7 separate regions of the Homo sapiens genome follow, and regions 1, 2, 3, 5, 6 and 7 are each reported to be linked to region 4. The links are microRNA targets in miRTarBase. Many come from high-throughput screens and were not tested one by one. Region 4 holds a microRNA gene; each other region holds the end of a gene's coding sequence.
The links. Region 4 holds the annotated microRNA hsa-miR-5006-3p (UUUCCCUUUCCAUCCUGGCAG, at 1,412-1,432, opposite strand). A microRNA usually pairs through its seed, bases 2 to 8, with sites in the 3' UTR of a target mRNA and lowers its output. Matches are read on the target gene's strand: a 7mer-m8 pairs with bases 2 to 8, a 7mer-A1 pairs with bases 2 to 7 and ends in A, and an 8mer does both.

Region 1 (3,145 bases), not on the chromosome of region 4:
AGAACTAAAGTTTAAGATGAATATTGTCAAAGAGCCAAAGGGGCTGAAATAGGCTTACGCTGACTCGGTTTCAATCAAAAACATACTCTTCATAGAAAGATGGACTCAAACTGCTATTTGGATTTCAAAACTCCCCATTTGGAAAAGAACATTTAATCTAGGTTTTTCTTTAATCTGTTTAGGCATTTTAAACAGCAGCTTGATACTTCATGGAATTATAAAGCTATGTATAATGCAGAAATCATTCCAGAACATATGTTTCTCTCTTACTTTACAATCAAGATTATTTCTGAGGACAAAGATCCTGTTTTCAAACAAATGTGATCATTAACTGTGGCGCATCAGAAAACATATGGCGTGTTTAGTTTCGGCTGAACTGAATCATTCCTAAAGAAAGTGACTAAGTTCCCATGAGGAATCAAGACGTTTTCAATTCATGGGGAAAGCCAGCGAGGAAGGGGAGCGAGGAACCCTGCACATCAGCTGAAGGCTCACAAGCGCCTCAGAGGTCTTGTGATTTCAACACGGGACTGAGGGTCCCAGCGTGGTTTATGTCCTGCCAGCGAAGAGCTTCAAAGACTAGTAATTCACCTCACAAAGGCTCTTCCATGGATTCACCCCATTCCTGCAGGGCACTGAAAATGCAGCCGCAGTCCCACCACGCCTCCTCCTTTTCCAGGGTTGTGGAGCTTGCTGGAGACGCAGCATTTCAGAAACTCAATCCACCTCTTTCCAAAAAACTGTACCTTGTATTTTCTAGAACCAACTTCTGGGCTTTCCACCCTTTGTCTTTTCCTACTCTTTTTTTTTTTCCCTTTTCTTACCAGCAGACCCATAAAAAGTGAAAAACCACAAAAACATCACCTTGGGAGACACAAAAGACTAAGACAGATCTGACCACATGACAAGTGTCTCAGCTTTGACCTACACAGGAGCAGGTAAGACTCTGGAGTGACGGACGGCTGCCGCTGCTGCCGCCACTGCGACTGCACAACACTGTTTAGACGGTTGAACAAGTGCAAAGAGAACATTGCTGAGTCCCATTTGTGTTATTTGGCTGCACATCTCATGGTGTTGGAGGTGGTTTCGGAGATGGGCACGAGCTCTCACTGTCGAAGCTAGCAGCTCGGCCCTGCCACTGCAAAGAGGAGAACAATCTGTTTATTAATTGCTAAAGGAATTTACATTTCAACTTGCAAAACTGAACTGGCCCAATGCACTGAATTCACCTTTCCTAGCTTCTCATAAGCTTTCTTGAATTTTGCTGTCAGCCATGCAAAAACATAAGGGAAACAGCTTAGAGCTTCTAGTTTGGAATACCTGATTTTCAAAAAGACCTACTGCAGAGATAATTAAAGCTTTCTTAACTCTCTCTCTCTCTCTCTCTCTCTCTCTGTGTGTGTGTGTGTGTGTGTGTGTGTGTGAGAATGAGGTGCTCTGACTGGGCCATTTCTGTGTGCTTCAGCCATTTTTCACACTGAAAATCATATTATGTTAGCAGCGAAAGAGGCAGTGTGCAGAATATGTCCTTACTGCCAAGAACCCATGGTCATGCATTATTAGCAATTTGTCTGGGAGCTGACAGTACAGCTAAAAATCTGATACTGCTTTAGCTTTGAGCTGTCTCCTTTGTTTTTCATTCTTCCTATGGGCATTTGCACCTGACTTGTGGAGAGGTAGAGGTGTGAGCAGACCCTTCTGGGCTTCTGCAACCCCTTTCTCCTCCCCAGTTCTCCTAGGTCACAGACTGCCTCCTATCAGCCTGACTCTAACCCTTCTGTGAAAGGGGTGATGTAATGAGGCGTAATGGAGTGAAGGACAGGGCTGAGGCTGGGTGGACTTGAACCATTCAATCCTTCTTTAACCAGTCATCGCTGCAGCAGTCATAACCCCAGCAATATTTACTGAGCAAAGATCTGACCCCATGAATATTCTTGACCTGCCTGGGGGCTTTATGTTAATAACTTCAAAGTGAGTCAGTGTCCACTGCTCACCCATCCTTGGAGTGGGCTGAAGAGACCCAGTACTGTCCTGGGTGTCTGCAGGACAGAGCTCCAGAGTTAAGAGGTAGGTAGGTGGTCAAGATGGCCTTCCTGACCTGGAAGTGCAGCCCCTTCTGCTTCTCATGAGCGTTGAGGGTCTCCACTATGGAGTGAGGGGGCTGAGTAGAAGCTGCTACTATGCATCATGCATACATGGAGGTTTGGGGTCGGGGGAGGATGTGGTTCTCCCTCAATACAGCCATTCCTAGAAGGGCCGAGCCACCTGAGGAATAGATCACTTTCTATCCAGCATCACCTGCGGAGTAGATGGGAAACCCATGAAGTTCAGGAAGGACCCAGACCTACTAAACTACCTTAATGCTTTCAATTCTAAGGAAAGCTTCTGTTACCCTTCTCTGGGCTCGGTTCTTCATGGGCTTCTTAGGACTCCCTGTTCAGGCCAGCTGAAGATCTTTATGACTAACCAAAGGCCAGACAATCAGGTACCGATGACCACCATTATGTGACCTAGACCTAAGCAATCTTAGCATGTCAGCACTGGAGGCAGGCTTGGAAGCTGATCCAGTCTAACCTTCTTGTTCTCGCAAATAAGAAAACAAAGACAGAGAAGTCAAGACACAGCTAGCTAGGGGCAGAGCCAGAACCCGAAACCAGGTCTCCTAACACCCAACCAAGTGTTCTTTCCACTCCATCCTGCTGCTATCTCAGCATCTGGCCACACTAGGGGAAGAAGGAGACAAAAGGTAATAAGCAACCTAACGTCTTTGGGTCCACACCAGGTACTTACTCCTAACTCCAGGTGGCAGTCTCTCTGCTTGCAGCATCCACGTGAATGAAATCACAACCGAGGGTTTCCCTGGTGAAATATTTTAGATAAATAAATGCCTGGTTGTTGAGGCCACTGTGGCTTCTGACTCAAGTGTTTCTTAACCAGAAGGTGACAACACATGATTACTAATGCTCTTATTTAACAGACCTTCATTTTAGGAGTTCTACTTTTCTGTTACAACCTTTACTGTTGGTGAAAGGTACATTATAATCACTGGCTTCTTCCCTGAGTAAGCATGCCACTTAAACAACCTGACTGATAGGCCAGGTCAGAGGAGAAAACATAAAAGGACTACACAGAGTGTCTTTCTTCC
Region 2 (3,000 bases), not on the chromosome of region 4:
CCAAACATGACTTCTTTGGTTCTGCTATAATCCTTAAATTGTTTGATTTCTTGGTCTTGTTTCTTCAACTTAATTGCAAGTTCTTTAGAAGCTCAAACATCATAGGACCTTGTATATAAATAGCCAAGTATCTGTTTTTTCCCTTGCCTTTCTAAATCTGTGATTACATACATAGTATAAGCTTAGGGAAACATTTATTGGTGTGACAATGCAGAAGTTAACTAAACTGATTTAAGTCTTTGAAAGTTTTTGAAATAAAGATTTTATCATTTATTTTCTAGCTGTCACCACTGACTAAAGAAGAGAAAACTGCGGCAGAGCAATTCAAATTTCACATGCCAGATTTATGAAGAAATGGACTTGGAAAGGAAATTCTAACAGAGAAGAGCTTAATTCCGGAGAAATTTAGGAAGATGTCTTGTTAACCCTTGATGTCTAGAGATTGGGGGCTGGTGAAGGGGGTTTGGCTTCAATGACTGGATAATGATATCTTTCATGAGAGAGATTATAAGAAGAAGGGCAGATAATATATGAATAAAGTTCAGCCAAAAGGATCAAATGAGAATAAAACGATTTAAATATATGTACACACGCATGCACACACACACTTAGTCTTGTAATTTCAGGCCAGAAATTCTCAACACTATTTTGCATCTGTTTTCTTTTTCTAAGTCATGATAATATAGATGTTCTGGTCTATCATAAAAGAATGTTTATGTACATTTCAGTCATTCGGTATGTGGCTTTGTAAATTAAAGTATAGGCAAAACATTTGTGTTATACATGATATATAATTTCATTTTGTAAATGTTGATTGCACATGTGGTCACATTATTGTTGAGACTGCTTTTATGTGACCTGTAGTCTCCCACAGAACCTAAAGTAATAAGCTGGCTTTTCTGTGATAGCCACGTTTGCGTATTTCTTTCCCTATTTCCCTTGCCTGCTAATGTTGAACAGCATGAACTTGCTTTCTGATGCTGTTTTAGACTGTCCCTGTTGTATCTCAATAATATCTTTGTTTTCCTTCAGCCTTTATTACTATAATTGTTCATTCTACATGAAAGCTAGGAAACTGAAATTAGAAGAGCACTTATCTGCTACTTGCCAGTTTTGCGTGAGTGTGTTATATGTATGTGTCAATTTCCCTTTAAAATAACTATTTATTTTAAAATAACTATTGGCAATAAGGAAACTGTTCAAAGTAGAGGCAGATCTTGATAGAAAGATGTTAATCACAGGGTTGTTTATAATAGCAATATACATACACATTTGGCTAGTACTAGGTGAATAGGAAAATAAATCATGCTGTATGTATACAATAAGAGGTCAAGTTGCCAATAAATTATTACTGTTAATGTTCTGGGAAATGCTGAAACTATGCTAAGTGGGGGAGAGGGAAAGCAGGTATTGCAGTTTTGTAGTGAAGATTGGGCTTTGGAGTCATATCTGAGATGTAAGTAGCAGCTTTTAAATTCTAGCTATGACCCTGTGCAGATCACTTAACTTTTGAGTGTCAGGATGTTTGGAAGGACAAGACAGGAAAGTGTTTTAATACAGGGTTCAGTATTTAGTAAGCCTTCAATAAGTGATATTACATACATGTAATAAAAACTAAGCATTGAAAGGACTAGGAAAAATGCATCAAATGTTAGTTCTGCAGGTTATAGAATTATACTTTTATGTAATTTTAAAATTTCAGTTATGAACATGTTTGTCCATTAACAAACTTATAATAGCTGAAAAACAGGGTTGTGAGAACAGCTTCAGTTAAAATTGTCCTGTCTAGTTTGAATATTTCAAGAACAGAAAGCCTTTTTTTTTTTTTTTTTTTTTTTGAGACGGAGTCTCACTCTGTTGCCCAGGCTGGAATGCAGTGGTACGCTCTCAGCTCACTGCAACCTCCACCTCCCAGGTTCAAGCAGTTCTCTGCCCCACCCTCCCGAGTAGCTGGGATTACAGGCGCCCGCCACCACGCCCGGCTATTTTTTTGTATTTTTAGTAGAGATGGGGCTTCACCATCTTGACCAGGCTGGTCTTTAACTCCTGATGGTGATCCACCCACCTCGGCCTCCCAAAGTGCTGGGATTACAGGCATGAGCTACCGTGCCTGGCCCCCTTTTTTTTAATTACAGAGAAATAAGTTACACCTTAGTATCAGATATTAATTTTCTTCAGTGTTCAGGCAATTAGTATTTAGAAAGCTCTTGTCATGAGATGGCTCTGGGATGTGATGATGATTGTTGGGATTGAAAAAACGGTAGTATCATGGAGAGATCATAATAAATTCTTAGTATTAAAAGTGGTTTTGCTTTCAGTTAGGGAGAAAAATTAGATTGTACTATTTTTCCTCTATGATTTCCTTCAGTTATCTTCCAAATGTTGTTTTTTCCCCACAGCCCCCTTAACATTGTTCTCTATGCACTTCTCAATACATTTTCATTTGTTTCTCAAGCCTCTTTGTGGATGACTCCTAAATATAACTTCTTCCACTAGCTCTAGATCCGTATTTCCAATAAAATCCCCTACCTGAATATTCAAGTTAAACATGTCCAGAATACTTACTGATTTTATTGTTAATAGCCACTATTCTGTTGTCTGGAATTAAAACCTGTATAACTAATTTGCATCCCTTTATCTTCTTAGTCAATAAAACCTACAATCCTCTTTCTAAAATGGTCATAGTATACAACCTCTACATTATCTTCACACCTCCTTAATTTAGATCTTTTGTTTCTCATTTGGATTATAATTGTTTTCTCCTATGTGACTATAGTGTCTTTATGTCTTAAGTTATAAATAATACATGTTTAAGAATTTAAAAATCACAGGCATGGCCGGGCATGGTGGCTCACGCCTGTAATCCCAGCACTTTGGGAGGTCGAGTCGGGCAGATCACAAGGTCAAAAGATGGAGACCATCCTGGCCAACATGGTGAAACCCTGTCTCTACTAAAATTACAAAAATTAGCTGGGTGTGGTGGCACGTGCCTGTAGTCCC
Region 3 (3,145 bases), not on the chromosome of region 4:
TGTTTATGCTTCTTTTGTACATATATATAATTTTTTGAAGCCAAGGCCTAAACAAGATTCTCTCAGGTTAATTTGGAGTACATCAAGGATATCTTGCTAATATGTGTCTTTGTATTTCCCTCAGGAAAACCTTGAGAATGGCAGTGCCCGGAAACAGGGGGCTGAATCTGTCTTACAGAACGGACTCAGAAGAGAAAGCCTGGTACATGTTCCAGGCTATGATCCTAAGGACAAAAGCTACAACAATATGGCATTTGAGACTACCCATTTCTAAGGCAATACCTGTATGAATGCACACACACACGTGCAATACACACACACACACACAAACTCCACATACTTCTTGCCTACTTGTTAGTAGATATGTATAGTTGCCATTGCTAGAAGACAGGGATGTCTGGTGCCTATTTCTACTTATTTATAACTACATGCAAAATGACTGTCTCTCGGGATATTCTTTGAAAGACTCCAACTTTCACAGAGAAAAACCAACCTGCTCCAAATGCCCTTGACTACTTCCTTCTTGAATAAATTAGGGCTGGATTTCATTACCATTCAAGAAAGCGAAGTCTTTTTGCTTGGTGTCATATTAAACTTCAGGTTTTTCGTTTTAGTAGTTTTTTAACCATCAAAATATCTTGGAGTTTAGAGGCAGAACGGGAAACAGAAATATGCATATTTAACACTTTCCTGCCACGAGGGATAAAATAGAGGAATGACATCCACCCCTGACCTCATACCTGACATACATGTAGATATATTTTATGCCACCCATCTCCCATCCTGTAGCTACAATTGGCATACAACTACTATTAACCTCCCTTCACCACCACTGTCAGGTCCTCTTCCAGTCATTCCAGTCATTAGCTGTCCTGACCAAACATTAAAAAAAAAATTCAGCTAAATACAGAAGAAGATGGTATGTCTGGCTAGTGGGAGTGATTATAACTAAAAACTTTGCTCCTTTTGTGCTGTCCATGCAGTATGTCTTCTTCCTTTCTATCACTTTACAATGAAAAATTGCCTCAGAGCTCAATAAGAAGTCTAGAGCCTTTTTCCAGGGCTAAGGAAAGAGAAAAGGAATGTCCTATAGAAGGTTGTTAGGATAGAATTTGGTAAAAGAACGTTGCAAATATTGTAACAGACCATAGGAGATTTCATCAGCAATAGGATTCTTCTTTGGAGAAAATACATTGTCCATAAGACTTGTACTCTGCTCATTCAACTCATGTGAGCAAGCTCAACTCACTCCACCTGGGTTAGGTAACAGAAGTGGAGAACTTCATAGTTCGTGTCTAGAAAATAATGTTTAAAGTTCTGGAGAATGAGGGTATTGCAGATTAAAAGGCGAGTTGACAAATGAAGGAGCAGTGAAAGATTTTTGGAAGAAGTGAAGAAGTGAAATTCTGAAAAGGTAAAAGAAAGAACCAGTATGTCACAGGGGCCAAGTCAGAGGACAGATAATAAGAAACAAAGTTGTATCTGAGAGTCATATATTAGGACAGGTGTCAGATATTTATTTTGGTGGCCAGATAAAAGCAAAAGGCCTAGAAACAGTGTGTTAGCAAAGTAAGAAGAAATGGTCCAAATAGGCAAGGATAAGGAAATCCAAAGGTTGTCTTTAAATATTTCTCAAAAGAGAAAGCCTTGAAAGAAGCATACAATAGAGAAAAAATAAATTACCAGTATTTATTATTAGAAAAGATAGAAAGACAGACAAATCAGTGGAGGAATTAAAACAGAGAAACTGGAGTTTATAAAACAGAGCCCAATCCTTGCCTTCTCTCCCTCCACTCAAATAGAAAAGGAGAATGGAGAAAGAGAAAGAAGGTATTAGGCTACAGTTTATAAGAGAGATGAGAAAAAAATACATTTGGGAATAGAGGGAAAGGGTCAAAAGGGGTCACATTTGGAGAAATATCTGAAAATGAGAAGGAGCAGAATTTTTGGAAACATTTTTTAAAGTCTGGCAACGCTAATTAAGCTGTTGATCTAAGGATTTGCAAATTGAGAGGTGCAATTATTTTCCAAATGATTTGTGACACTCTTATTAATTAGAATATATATTTTGTGAATATTGAAATCTGAGCCAAAACTAGTTAGCTTTATTAATATCTTAGGGAAAGAAGAGAGAAAGAAAGAGGGAGGGAGAGAGAGAAAGAAAGAAAGAAAGAAAGAAAGAAAGAAAAGAAGAAAGAAAGAAAGAAAAAGACAGGAAGAGGAAGAGAGAGACAGAAAGAATAAAAAAACAGCAATTCTGAGGATGAGAATAAATTAATGGTAGGTATTACATATGCATATACATATATATATCTGTACACATATATATGTAAATATGATTTGGAATACATCAGGATTGTGAACTTCCACTTGGGATAGCATAAAAGCAAAATATACCATACAATTTTTCATTTTACTCACAAATTTTACTCACAAATTCTCCTAAAGACATTTCACTAGGTCAGTACATTTCCGAGAAAGTTTTAAAAACGTTTCTTCTTTTATAGTCCCTAATTATCTTACCTGGAGTGTTATCAAAATGTCATACAACTGGAAAATGCAATTATTATTATAAAAATATCTCTGCCTTCTCTTGTGTAATGAAATTTATGGCATTAGGAGATGACATTTCAAGAGATTTTAGAGGTCAATGTAGAGACTCCCCCCATTCTTCTTAATTGAACAAACATGCATAAATCTAGGGTTTCAGGTAGAGAGCAGATGGGAATCTACAGGAAACTGTCTTCCATAGTGTATGAAAACCGTGTTTGTTGTGTGGTGAAGCAAAAGGAAACTATGAAGCGCACAGTCAATAGATTCAGCTAGTGAGTCCCAGCACTCCTTTCAGGCCCTCACTAGGATTAGCAGCCCAGAGTCATGCCAAGGCCACTGGTGCAGTACAAAGACAGTTCAGTGACAAGTTCCATCCATACCATGGAAGAGGGTTAAACTTGTGGCTGTTTTTGCCACAGCATGACCAGAGACATTCTCAATAAATGGCACTAGGAATGATGAGTTTTAGAGGGGCCTAAAATGTTCCAAACTTGATACTCACCACTGTACCTTTAAAGCACAACCACAGATATTGGTAAAAATGGAACAGAATTACCTCAATACCTCTTTAACTCATTCTGTATGAATTCAT
Region 4 (3,126 bases):
AGAACAAATGGGTATTATCTTTTCTTCTTTCCTATAATTAATTAAAATGAAATTATGGACCTGTACAATTTCAATAGATATGGATGGATAGGATAATATTATTAATAATAGTTTTTCCAACTTAAGACCAGTTTTTTCAACTCACTGGTGCCCTAACGTTTCTGATTTTGCTATCAATCGTGAAGAGGAGTTTTTAAATTATATGGTTAAAGAGAGAATGACTTTTGCTGAAGCATCTTATTTTAAACAAAGTAATATTGAGCTTATTGATAAAATAAAGGTCAGCCCAAGAGTGTGTGGGAATAAGGTACATTTTGAAAGAAAAGAGAATGAGGCTTTAAAAAAAGTTGTTTTCTTTCTTTTTGTTACAGCTAAAAATTTCCAATCACCATTCACTTCAAATATACCACCTTGATTTTACTTTTTTTACTTTGCTTTAGGTAATTTTTATATGAATATTCTCAATAAATAATTTTCGTGTAAGCATTTATTATTTTGAGCATTACAGTTTGGACCCCAAAATGGAGTACTGTGAATTTTTTGAGAGATGCTAGAAGAACAGAAGAAACAGTAAACTTTTAAGGCAAGACATCTTTCTCCTCCCACTCTAGCAGCAAGGAGAAGAGGACATTTGCTCTTTAAGAGCCTTTTAAAAGTCACGTGGAAAGGCAAGCACTCCAAGGATTTTTTGATTCCTTTTGGCTTTGGCCAAGAAAATGAAATTATTGAGAACAGCCAGACTTTCATAAGATATTGCTGTTGGAGGGACTTTTTGGTGGGTTAAATATTATAAAATCATTGTTTTCTGGTCAATACAGAGCAGGGAGAAAATAAAAATAATTGTTGGATAGGAGCATTTTGGTGGGTTTTGCACAGACTTGCATCTTGTGTCAGAATGTGACATCAAAGGCTCAGTTTGATGGGGTCACTTTTCTAACGTGACCAGATGATGTGTTAAGGCAAAAGCAAAGTATTTTCTCCCCCTCAGGTTTTTGGAAATAGACCAAACACATAGTTCTCAAAACCACCTTCCTTTAACCCCAACCTTTGATAAAGTGCAGGTCAACTAGCTTGCCCTAATCACTTCTAAACTCATCAGTGGAGTATCTTTCCATGTTTAAGTCTCCTTCTGGCTGCTTCTCTGAATTCTCATTACGGAGCAAGTGTAGGAAGACCCAGGAATGCCGGAATCATCCAGTCACTGCATGGGTTCACTTCATCCATATCTTCTTTTTTTCAGAATACTCTTTATTCCTGTCTTATTTCAAATCCTGGTGTCATCAGGGTGATGAAGGGCACTTCTTAGACACTCGACAACATGGTGGAGGTGAAGATCTGTTGTAAAATCTGAGGGATATCCTTGGTATCCATGGCAACGAAAGACCGACCAGCTGGTAAAGTTCTCTGAAGCCTGCCAGGATGGAAAGGGAAAGGAAGTTACCACTGTAAATGGGGCTCCCTTCCACCTCCTGCCCTGGCAAACCACAGCCCCCTAATGGTTTCTTAGGAAAGGAAGTTTTTACTTTCTAATACCTTGCTCTCTGCCTACCATTGAATTAGTCGTCATTAAACAATGAAAGGCTTGGAAGAGCAACAAGGAAAGACACAGCAAAAGCAGGGAACTGAAAGAAAGGTCTTTTCAGTGAGAAAGTCAGTGAATTTGAAAAGAAAAAATTTTCTTCCTTTCTTTACTGCCATTTCTTGGTATTTCATATTCTTTTGGTATAACAGAGCCATAGGGATTCATATGGAATCAGCTCACCTCCCGGGTCTAGCAAATATGTTGACCTTACACTGTATTTCGAAGTGCTTTTCCTTCCTTAGAAAACAGGCCTCTAAAAACGCTGCGCAGCCAAACCCTGAGTGGTTCTTTCTCTCTTTCTTTGCCTCTCTCTCTTTTTTTTGGTCCACATCACACAATGTGAAATGCGATCTGGATTGTCCAATTACTGCTTCAATGACACTGAGGTTATACAGGCTTATGAAATTTTTTCCAACTCATTTTTAAGTGAATTTTAAAAAACTTATAATGGGTTTTGATTTGAATTATCCTTAAAAATAACATGTCATTGAAGTTACGATACTTTTTTAAATACTAATTTATAATTTGGAACAAAAGGCCATTTTGAAGGCAACAAAACTGTAAGACACAGTTCTCTTCAAAAGAACGCCTCCTTTCACTGTGCCAGTGAAGTCTGGCTTTGGAATGACATTTAATAAAATTCAACCATCCTGTGTAGTATCGTATATTTGGCATGCCTGGTAAGCCAGCTAATTCTGCAACATATCTTTTGCCAGTGGATGTTGGACCATTTCCCTAGGAAACCACAAGGGTATTATTGTGCTTTCTTAAGTATTCAAACAGGATCTGTTCACTAGAAAGACAAAATAGCCATTTCATCTCAACTAGTATTTGTTGAGCTTGTTGTCTGCCTAATACTGGGCTGATGCTGAGGAAAACCTGGGTGGAAAAGGCATAGTTTGTGTTTGAGGATGTGGAGGTTCTAAAAGATGCAAAGTGCTAACTTGTAAAAACTAAGAAGAATGAAAAGTCATGTCATAAAATGACTGTAACTACATGATATTAAGTCTGTTCTCAACCTCGCTCTGCAACCTTACAGCAAGGCAAAGGGAATAGAAAGAGAAAAAGCTGCTAGCATTTTGGATATTAAAACATTTCCAGTCACAGAGTATGAAAAGTAAAAGGGGTGGAATAACAAAAACGTAGGCCCTTTGTGCTTTAGGCAGGGATTTTTTTTTTTTTTTTTAAGATTACTTTCACTGGTGTTTTATGTTTCTTACAGGTATTTTAAACACAGAAAAACCATGAGCTCTTTCTGTTTGTAATTCAAAAAGATAAATGTTATTGTGTTCAAGTTATGAAAGTGTTTCCAGATCTCTCCTTTCAGATCATACCCACTGGTATTTATTGTCTGATCATAAGATTCTCTATTGAATATTTAGTATATTCAGTGTAGTATCTAACTATATGTATATTATCTTATGTTGTCGCCAAGTGTTTCACCTGCCTTGTCTCTCCAGCAATAAGAAGGGATACATGTGAGTGTGTCTATATATATATACAGGCATGCATATATGTAGGTGATGTCTCTATGGGGATATAAT
Region 5 (3,000 bases), not on the chromosome of region 4:
AACATTCCATGATTCTAACACAGAGACATAGAAATTGGGATTTATTCATTTACTCAACAAATCCTTATTGAACATCTAAACGCTAGGCATCATGTCCTCTGAAGGAGGAGTCTCTCTATCGTGCTCCCCAAGTCCCTCTCTTCACATGTGAACACCTTTATCATGTTACTTGAGTCTTTATTGGAATTAGGGCTTCTCTAATCTGACTCCTCCATTGACTACATTGTTGTTTTTGCCAATGAGTAGGATTCTCAACATACAGTAGGTGGTCAAAAATCATTTGGTGAATGAACAAAGAAAGAGGAACTCTTCAGATGCAAAGATAAGCATCCCAGAATGAACAACCAGAATGAGAGGTCTCGAGCATAATAATATCCAGTAATATTTCATTGACACAATCATATGACTACACTATATGCTACTTAGGAATTTCTGAGCCAACAGCAGACCCTGGTTGCACTGAGACCCAAAGTACTAAGACCTGCCTCTCTTTAACCTTGAACACAGACAGATTCTTGGCACTAAGTTTCAATTTGGCGTATTGAGCCATCGACGCTGGATCCCTTTGGCTGCCTCTCCCAATCTGCCCTCCACTCGTTTCCACCCTACTTGGTGCCCTGGGAGGCCAACTTACATAACTGCCTCCGCTGGGCTCCAGTGCCCTCTGGCTCTGGCTGGGTTTGGTCAATGGGGGAGTACTAGCACATTAGAGGAAGAGATGATGGCAAAGTTGGGGTTTGTTTGTACAAATTTATGGGGTACCTGTTAACTTTTGTTCTATGTATATAATGCATAGTGATTAGTGATCAAGTCAGAATACTTAGGATATCTGTCGCCCAAGTACAATACATTTTTGTGTAATTATAGTCACGCTACTGTGCTTTCACACATTCAATGTATTCCTTCTATCTGACTGTACATTTGTACCCTTTAACCCATTTCCCTTCACTTTAATCCATTTCCCTTCATCCTCTCCCCACAACTTACCTTTCCCAGTCTCTGTTCTCTATCTTTCCACTCTACTTCCATGTGATCAACTTTTTTAGCTCTCACCTACAAGTGGAGAACATGTGATATTTGCCTTTTTGTCCGTGGCTTACTTCACTTGAGATAATGACCTCCAGTCCCATCCAAGTTGCTGCATATGGCACGATTTCATTTTTTATGGCAAATATTTCATTGTATATATGCACCACATTTGTTTATCCATTCACCTGTTGATGGGCACTTAGGTCCATTCCATATCTTTGCTATTGTGAATAGTGCTACAATAAACATGTGAGTATAGGTATCCCTTTGCTATAGTGATTTATTTTCTTTTTCCGTTTCTTTCTTTTTTTGTTTTTTAAGACATGGTCTCATTTTGTCTCCCAAGCTAGAGCGCAGTGGCATGGCATGAACACAGCTCACTGCAGCCTCAACTTCCCAGGCTCAAGTGATCTTCCTGCCTCAGCCTCCCCAGTAGCTGGGATTTCAGACACGTGTCACCACGCCTGGCTAATTTTTGTATTTTTTGTAGAGACAGGGTTTCACCATGTTGCTCAGGCTGGTCTCGAACCCCTGAGCTCCAGCAACCTGCCCACCTCAGCCTCCCAAAGTGCTGGGATTACAGATGTGAGCCACCACACCCTGAGGTGATTTATTTTCCTTTGGGTAGATACCCAGTAGCGGGATTGCTGAATGGAAGAGTAGTTCTATTTTAAGTTTTTTGAGAAATATCCTACTGTTTTCTGTAGTGGCTATACTCTTCCTACCAACAGTGTAAAAGAGTTCCCAAAGTTAGGATAGTTATTCTCTCTTTTCAGGGTGACCCCAGGCTATAGTGTCCCTTGACCAAATGTCACAGCTCCTGTAGGACAGCCCTCCTCACACACTGTGTGTGTGTGTTTGTGTGTGTGTGTGTGTGTGTATACATGCATGCATGTCTGTCTCTGTCTCTGTCTCTCTGGGTTTCTTTCCCCTTTAGTCTTAAAGACAGTAGCAGGGCCCCACTCTTCCTAGTCTCAGGGTGCTGCATTCTCCCTTTTAGTTTTCCCACACCCTAGTTTAATATGCCCTTCATTAAACTAATCTCAAATTATTCAATTTGAGTGCAATATCAATTTCCTGATAGGACCTTGACTGAAAAACCACCCACGTATTCTGAAGAGTAAATGATATAACCAATTACCACAAAGCACAATAAGTGGGATGCTTATAAATGCTAGTTTCCCTCCCCTTCCCTGTTATAATTTTTATACCCCCTACAATGGCTATTCCTAGTGCCTTTAACATAATTGCTACTTAAGAAAGATTTGATGAATGAATAAAAAAAAATTTCAACACTTTTGACCATACTTTTAGACTTAAATTCATGGAAATCAATATGCATTAATTTAGATTATCAGATGTTACATTTAGAGAAGTTTTTATTTCAATAATTGTGGAGGAGGCAGTTTGCTTTACACATCTCATTCTCTATTTTCTCATAGTCTAACTAAGTTATGGCTCAACTCCGGAAAAACAGGGCCAAGGGATAAGCTATCATCTCAGGAGCAGTTTAAAAGACTAACAGATTAGTTTAACAGACTAAGAGATCCATCTACTGATCCTTCCTAGATCTTAGAGAAAATAGTCATTTTATTTCATGTCATCTAATTCATATGAACTGACTTTGCAAATTCATCATTTTCTACCTCCTACCAGATAGAAATGGAGTTTGGGATCAACTGTGCATCCTTGAATTTATCTGTGTTTATAATGAAGAAGTCGATAAAGCCGAATCATCACTCACCGTGTATATTGATCTCACTGATGCACTGTGGAAGTAACTTATAGTTCTGGAATTGGGGGAAGCACTTCCTGGACTTGATCCAAAGGCAGCCTCTGCGTGGTCTCTGCTATTTAAGAAGGAGAACTGTTTTAGTCTATATGTAGTAAATAGCAAAAAGAGACAGGCTTATTCTAATGTAGTAAGAGTAGCAAGAGAAGCATGCTCTACCTCTAGAAAGGATTTTGGGA
Region 6 (3,145 bases), not on the chromosome of region 4:
ATTCCCTAAAGGAACCAAACCATGCCCTCGCACCTGGCCAGCATTGGCCTCCCGGCCTCCAGTGGGAGTCCCCTGATTATAGGCAGTCGTATCTACAAGCTTAAGGAAGAGAGACGTTCGACACTGATTGTATGCTTAGCTAACGCTAACTCAAGTTCAGAGGTGGAGCTGGGAAGGTGCAGGAACCCCATCTTTCTCTGGCCCCCAGGGGCTCACCAGGGTGGGGGTAGAGGGGAAGCTGTCCAGCTGTTTGGAGCAGGGATGGGCACAGGAAGCCCTATGAACATCCCTCCAGCTGGCACTGCAGCTTCCGCCTGCGTGATTTGGGCAAAAGGAACGGGGGCTTGGCAGTGACAAGAGGCTGTGGGCGAGGAGGGGGAGCTAGTGGGAGGCGGCCAATGTCGCCCAGCCCTCCTGGGTAGCGGCGGCTGCTGGCGGGACTGGGGTCTCCTGGTGCTGGGTCCTGGGAACATCAGCCCGGAGTTCAGGGAACCCAAGGAGGCCTCGAAATTTCAGAGAAAGGAGTTCATGCTGCCCTGGCTCCCGGGCCATAGTCACACTTCGAACAATCCACGCATACTCCGAAGGACTGAAGCATGGACTTCCCCAAACAACAACAGAGATTTCCAGTCCTTCCACTACCCGCCCAGCTATACCTCCAACGGCCATGCCCCCCCACACAGGAGCATTCTTGTTTGCATAGCACAGCTCAGAACTCGGGGACCCCGGTGCGGCCTGGCCAGCTGCCCCTTGACCTCTGTTGGTCCATCTCCTGGACTGGCTGTCTGCAGAGGGGGGCACCCAGCACGTGGCACAGTGAACCCCGCCCTCCCTGGGCAGCCATGGGAGGGTCAGAAAGGACAGGTTGGAGACTGAGACCCCAGCTCAACTCTGAAGGCTGCACAGGGGCAGCTGTGAGTTTGGTTTGGACAAGGACCCTGACATCCAACGGGAACATGCCGTGAGCCTGGCACAGATGTGTGCACTCAAGGCCAAAGCTGTTCAGAAAAGGCATGACCTTAGCCATGGGGAAGGGCCATAGGCTGAGGTGGGGGCCGGGGCCCCTGGTGGAGCTCATGCTGCCCCCAAAGGCACCCCGAGACACTCCCTGACCCCAGTGGCAGGTGCAGGGTGGGGCTCCGGGAGGGCTCCCTGTCCTTCCCCAGTGCTGGCACCGCCCTGCCCGACACCAGGTCCTGCCCAGGGTCCCTGGTACCTCACCTCCTTCCTCGGGAAGCCAGTTGTCACTGGCCTGGGAGAGACAGAAAGCTGACCAAGCACGAGGCTTCCCCACGTGGGGCCTGCCCCCTGCCGCAGCCCAAGGCGCCCAGACACAGCCATGCCAGAGGGAGAATGCACCCTCTGAGTTTTCTCATGCAGTGAGCACAGGCAGCCGAGCGCTGTCCCAGGGGTGCCGGGACACAGACCCTCTCACTGTCCTGCAGAACCAATTCCTTCCCCCTGTCTGGCTTGAGTCAACCCAGCCCTGGAGATAGCAGTGCCAGCCTCGAGGACAGCAGCAAGTTTGGACCCGGCCGCTGCCTGCCCCCGACGAGGGTCCATAGGAGAGGAGAGGCACCGTCTGCAGCGTGCAGAGGCATCTGTGCGACAGGTAGGCACGGCAAGACGGGGCCTCCTGCCACCCACACAGGCTCACAAGCGTCTGGCGGGAATCAGGAGCACAGGCTGGGGACGGGGAGGCTTCGCAGGCTGCTGGGTGTGTTCTGGTCACCACGCCCAACCGTAACTGCCCTCTTCAGCTGCCAGGGAGGGTCCTTGGTTCCTGCCATCTGCACAGCCCTCCGGATGGTTGGAGCTGTCGAGAGTGTCCTGGGGTTTGAATTGATGCCTGTCGCGGGGCCGTTGATGGCACCCCATGGGGTCTGGTCGCCAGGGTTGGAGGGCTGGAGCCAGATGCTGGCTGGTTTGGACAACTCACTCTTCTGGACCAAAGGCAGAGGGGACCTGGTGGCACTCAGGGTGACAGGTGTCCCTGAGGGAGGCCTGGGTTGACTGGGGGTGGAGCCCCTTCAGGATGACCCCTGTTCCCCTCCAGGCCCCTGCCTGAGCTCCTCACAGCATCCGGGAGGGGTGGGGAGCAGCCACAAGGTAGGGGTATTCTGAGCCCCACCAGCCCCAGGGCCTTCTGCTGGGGCTGAAGGGCTAAGCCTCCCAGCTGGCCTTGACTCCCAAGAGGCTCAAGAGACCCCCAGCTGTGTACAGCAAAGGCTGCTGGGATTTGAACCCCACTCTGTTTTCAAACAAGTCACCCACTTTCTTTTTCTTAATAAAAGACCAAAAAAAAAGTAAGAAAGACAGACACAGTCTCCCCCATTTCTGAATGATGCCTTCAGAGCTGGGACTAGCTGGGGTTGGAGGCCGCTCGGGATGGGAAGGTGGGGACGGTCTGTCTGCTTTAGACACTCCTGAGTTTGAGGGAATCTGATACATGTACCAAAAGGCACTTTCTTTTTTTTTTTTTTTTCTTTCTTTCTTCTTTTTTTTTTTTTTTTTTTAAAAACAGTGCTTCTGTTCTAGGAAATTCAAGTGAAGACAGAGTGCCTCTTGCTGTCCTTCAGTGCCAGCCAGCGCGGTGCTGGGCAGCGGCCGGGTGCAGGGCGCTGTGGGGGTGGGTGCTCATGCTAGACAGCTCAACGTGGGGATTGGGGGGCCTCCTAACAGCACTAAGGACACAGCCGCAGGGAGTCGGGAAGACCGGCCGCCTCTGCTCAGTCCTGCTCCTCCGGCGTCCGAGCACGGCTCTCACTTCGGTCCGAAGATGCGAGGTCAGTCAATCCTCTTCACCACCTCCATACATGTCCGCCAGCTTCTTGAATCTGGGCCCCCAGTCGTTGAGGTAATCGTAGTCTTGGTCCCCGGAACTGGATGAGTTCAGGGAGCTGACGGAGCCTGCGGTGGAGCCGCTCCCCTCGTAGTCGAAGACCAGCAGGGAGTCATAGGGGGGTGCCGTGGGGTCGTTGTCAGCAGCGCGGAGTCCCTGGGGGTCACAGACACAGAGTTAGGGTGCAGGACGCGTTGTCTCAGCCCCGGGATCAGATGGAACGGAAAGCGAGGCCCAGAAGAAGAGGTAGGGAGGTAGGACGTTGCATAAAGTAGGTGTCCAATAAGGGCTCTCTGCATTTAA
Region 7 (3,000 bases), not on the chromosome of region 4:
GATTGCACTTTCTAAACCTAAATTGTGCCAAATCTTGCTTCCCTGTGAGACATTTAATTTTATTTTTAGAGTGCAAGAGCAGAACTTGAAAGGCTGCGGCTCAGTGAAAAGTGTGATAAAGAGTCCGTGGACTCTAGCTTAAAGGAGAGAGCTTCCATGGTGGCCCACTGCCTGGAGCACAAGGACGATAAACTTCGAAATCGACCCCGAAAACATCGGAGTTTCAACTGCCTGGAGGACACAGAGCCTGAAGCCCCACTTGGGCAACCAAAAGGCCATAAAGGCCTAAAGACATTGAGGAAGACTGAGGACAGGAATAGCAAAGCTACTTTGGACTCTGATCATAAGTTACCATCAAGGGTAATTGAAGAACTTAATGTGGTTCTACAACGGTCAAGAACCCTTCCAAAAGAATTACAGGATGAGCAGATTTTGAAGTAGGAAATAAAATGAATTGCTCCCCAGATTATTTTTTTAATATTGTATGCAATCTTTATGTGTAACTCCAAAACTGAACTATAAGATAATTCATAAGAATTTGCCTATTGATAGGCAAATTTGTCTATGCTTAGGCATTTAAGGAGCATTTAAAAATATGTATATATGTGACTGAATGTAAGATTAACTTTATTTTGGTCTGAACAAACCTTGTAAAGTTCCATTGTATTAACGTGTGTAAGAAGACATTGGGTTACTTAGGTGGTCAGTCCTTTTAAAGTAGTTGTCTGTTAAGTGGTATAATTTATGAGCAGAAATCTCAAACTGTACTGTATTGTATAAAATGCTGTGTTTAAATGAAGCCTAAGAAACTATCTGTAACATATTTTGCACTTTGAGAAACCTTGTATATTAAATTACCATATGTTTTTAGGTTTACAGAAGTTCTACCTTAGGGAAAAGAAAGGGAAGTAAATTGAAAAAGGGGGGAGAATTTATTGTAGTGGCTGCCTAAAAACCACTGGAGTTTTTAAAAGAAGCAAGGAGTTAAATGTCCTGCAAAACAAGGAAGTGAGCTAAGATTCATTCTAGTTCACTAATGACCAGAACTTGTCAATGAGAAACCACTTGTTAAGAAAAAGTCCAGTGTTTATTTCTCAAGAGTAATATTCGGCCAACAGATGTAAATAATAGCACTAGCCACTCTTATTAATATTTATAGTGTTAGAAAACCAGCCACATTACAGATTCACTACGTTTGAGCTCATTGTTGGTGGCTGCTAAGAGGAAACTTACACTGCATTGGAGAGGTTGTGTACACAGGACCTGGCCTGGATGCTGATTGCACTGTCATTGTATGCAAGCATTTTGTCTTTTTTCAGAATTTCTGACTATACTTTTGGTACGAACAAAATTCATCACCACAGGGTCCTGTTGTTTTGTTTGATTTTTAGATTTTTTTAAATTATTATTAAGGTTGTAATGTTTTTCTCCGAGTTGTCAGAAATAACTGGAAGAATACAATATATGGCCATTATGGAGCCAGGGGCTAGTTGGTGGTTTACTATACATTTGGGGGCTACCTGGTCACATTTAATCTAGGTTTTTTTTTCTTTTTTTAAGTAAAGGTGTGGTCTCTTCCCTGTACTTATGAATAAGGACAAAGCCCTATTTTTGTTTCCACATAAAGATCAGCTACTGAATTGGTGAATTTCCTGACAGACAATGCTATCTAACCATAGTTCATGTTAGGGGAAGCATTTTTCCATCAGTTTCTTTAAAATTGGATTGTCTGGTGAGTTTTGATATTAAACATTATGTAGCTAAGTTTTTTTTTTTTAGCATTTCTTTTTTATTTTTCAATCTATATTCACAGGCCCATACTTCAGTCAGTCCAATCATAGTACAGTGATGTGGTGGTAGATGCTATGAATTTCTTCATTGTAAAATACGGATCATTTGTATTTTGGGGTGATAAAATAGTTCACCATGGGTATGAGATATTTATTCTTTAAATCAAAGTAAATTAGAATTTTTAAAAAGCACAAAACTGCAGGACAGTTTATGAAATAGGTGGCACTATTAGGGAATCTTCCTTTAAAGCAAGAAATCATGTTATTTAGAAAGAAAAACTAATCTTAAACATACTATTTCTAATAAATATTTATATTTTTATGAAATAAAGAGGTATGTGGAAATTAATATTTGGTGATGTTGGACAGTGGAAAAGTATCTAGAGTTTTTACCTGCCTTATCTGAATTCTTCTTGAAACTTGAGCTTAAACTCTAATAGCTGTTTCCCTTTCTATTCTGAACAACTGTCTCCATTTTTCAAGTGTGAGAGATAAGGGCTAATGATGACATCTCATTTATTTTGAGTAAACATTAAAATTGTTTTACAAGTCTACTTGAATGTGACTTTATTATTTTCAGAAGTTGAAGGTTGTTATTGTGAAATAGATCAAATAGATTAGCTTTCTTTTCTTTTTAAAAAAATTTGAATTTAATATATACTTCAAACTGGCTGTATTGTTTTTCCAAACAGGTCACTGTAAGTAGCTTTATTTATTTAAAGACCCACTTGCTGAGAACCAGGCACAATTACAGGCTCTGTGGCCTGTATTGACGAGAAGCTGCTGACCAGCCACATCCCTACAAGATGCATAGTACCACCCCTGGTTTATAGGCATCTCTGCCAGCCTTGCCACACCATGAGAAGGCCAAGGGACTGGCACAAGTGTCTGGCACCTCAGCAGTGCCACTTGGTCATTCATGAGCAGTCCCTCATGTTCAGGAACAGTGCCTGTCACCCAGGCCACTTCAGCTGCATCCACTGTAGGAAGGAGCTGACTGGTGAGGCCCATGAGCTGAAGGGTGAACTCTACTGCCTGCCCTGCATTGACAAGATGCTGTCCCCATTTCTAGGGACTGCAGCCAGCCCATCAAAGGCCACATAGTGAATACACTGGGCAAAGAGTGGTGGCATGCAGAGCTCTTTTCCCTGAGTGTGAGAAGCCATTCCTGGGGCCCTGGCACTATGAGAAGAAGGGCCTGGCCTACTTT

Region 1: miRTarBase lists SYT6 as a target of hsa-miR-5006-3p. Seed matches in the 3' UTR shown: 8mer at 810-817.
Region 2: the mRNA of SKA2 is a reported target of hsa-miR-5006-3p. Seed matches in the 3' UTR shown: 7mer-A1 at 1,397-1,403.
Region 3: miRTarBase lists SLC5A12 as a target of hsa-miR-5006-3p. Seed matches in the 3' UTR shown: 7mer-A1 at 1,884-1,890 and 7mer-A1 at 2,119-2,125.
Region 5: miRTarBase lists TMEM156 as a target of hsa-miR-5006-3p. The part of its 3' UTR that is shown has no 7-base or 8-base seed match.
Region 6: the mRNA of CDH4 is a reported target of hsa-miR-5006-3p. The part of its 3' UTR that is shown has no 7-base or 8-base seed match.
Region 7: miRTarBase lists ARAP2 as a target of hsa-miR-5006-3p. Seed matches in the 3' UTR shown: 7mer-A1 at 892-898 and 7mer-m8 at 902-908.

The regions. Positions count from the first base shown.
Region 1 is chr1:114,090,945-114,094,089 of GRCh38, forward strand. It overlaps SYT6 (synaptotagmin 6), which reads right to left. Exons shown (of 8, transcript NM_001253772.2): 7 at 2,791-2,859; 8 at 1-1,138. The coding sequence ends at 2,842. Among named protein-coding and RNA genes, the nearest start is that of SYT6, 61 kb to the right of the region's middle. RefSeq lists an enhancer at 927-1,428.
Region 2 is chr17:59,109,627-59,112,626 of GRCh38, reverse strand. It overlaps SKA2 (spindle and kinetochore associated complex subunit 2), which reads left to right. Exons shown (of 4, transcript NM_182620.4): 4 at 282-2,770. The coding sequence ends at 350. The region is part of intron 1 of LOC124904039 (a long non-coding RNA gene); the gene reads right to left. Among named protein-coding and RNA genes, the nearest start is that of TRIM37, 4.2 kb to the right of the region's middle.
Region 3 is chr11:26,668,231-26,671,375 of GRCh38, reverse strand. SLC5A12 (solute carrier family 5 member 12) reads left to right here. Exons shown (of 15, transcript NM_178498.4): 15 at 125-3,145. The coding sequence ends at 274. Among named protein-coding and RNA genes, the nearest start is that of SLC5A12, 52 kb to the left of the region's middle.
Region 4 is chr13:41,566,895-41,570,020 of GRCh38, forward strand. It overlaps MIR5006 (microRNA 5006), which reads right to left and starts at 1,501; the gene lies at 1,392-1,501. It overlaps VWA8 (von Willebrand factor A domain containing 8), which reads right to left. Exons shown (of 45, transcript NM_015058.2): 45 at 1-1,411. The coding sequence ends at 1,303.
Region 5 is chr4:38,968,259-38,971,258 of GRCh38, forward strand. TMEM156 (transmembrane protein 156) reads right to left here. Exons shown (of 7, transcript NM_024943.3): 6 at 2,774-2,879. The coding sequence ends at 2,812. Among named protein-coding and RNA genes, the nearest start is that of TMEM156, 63 kb to the right of the region's middle.
Region 6 is chr20:61,936,590-61,939,734 of GRCh38, reverse strand. It overlaps CDH4 (cadherin 4), which reads right to left. Exons shown (of 16, transcript NM_001794.5): 16 at 1-2,998. The coding sequence ends at 2,792. Among named protein-coding and RNA genes, the nearest start is that of MIR1257, 16 kb to the left of the region's middle.
Region 7 is chr4:36,065,348-36,068,347 of GRCh38, reverse strand. It overlaps ARAP2 (ArfGAP with RhoGAP domain, ankyrin repeat and PH domain 2), which reads left to right. Exons shown (of 33, transcript NM_015230.4): 33 at 70-2,344. The coding sequence ends at 441. It also overlaps the pseudogene LOC651644. Among named protein-coding and RNA genes, the nearest start is that of ARAP2, 180 kb to the left of the region's middle.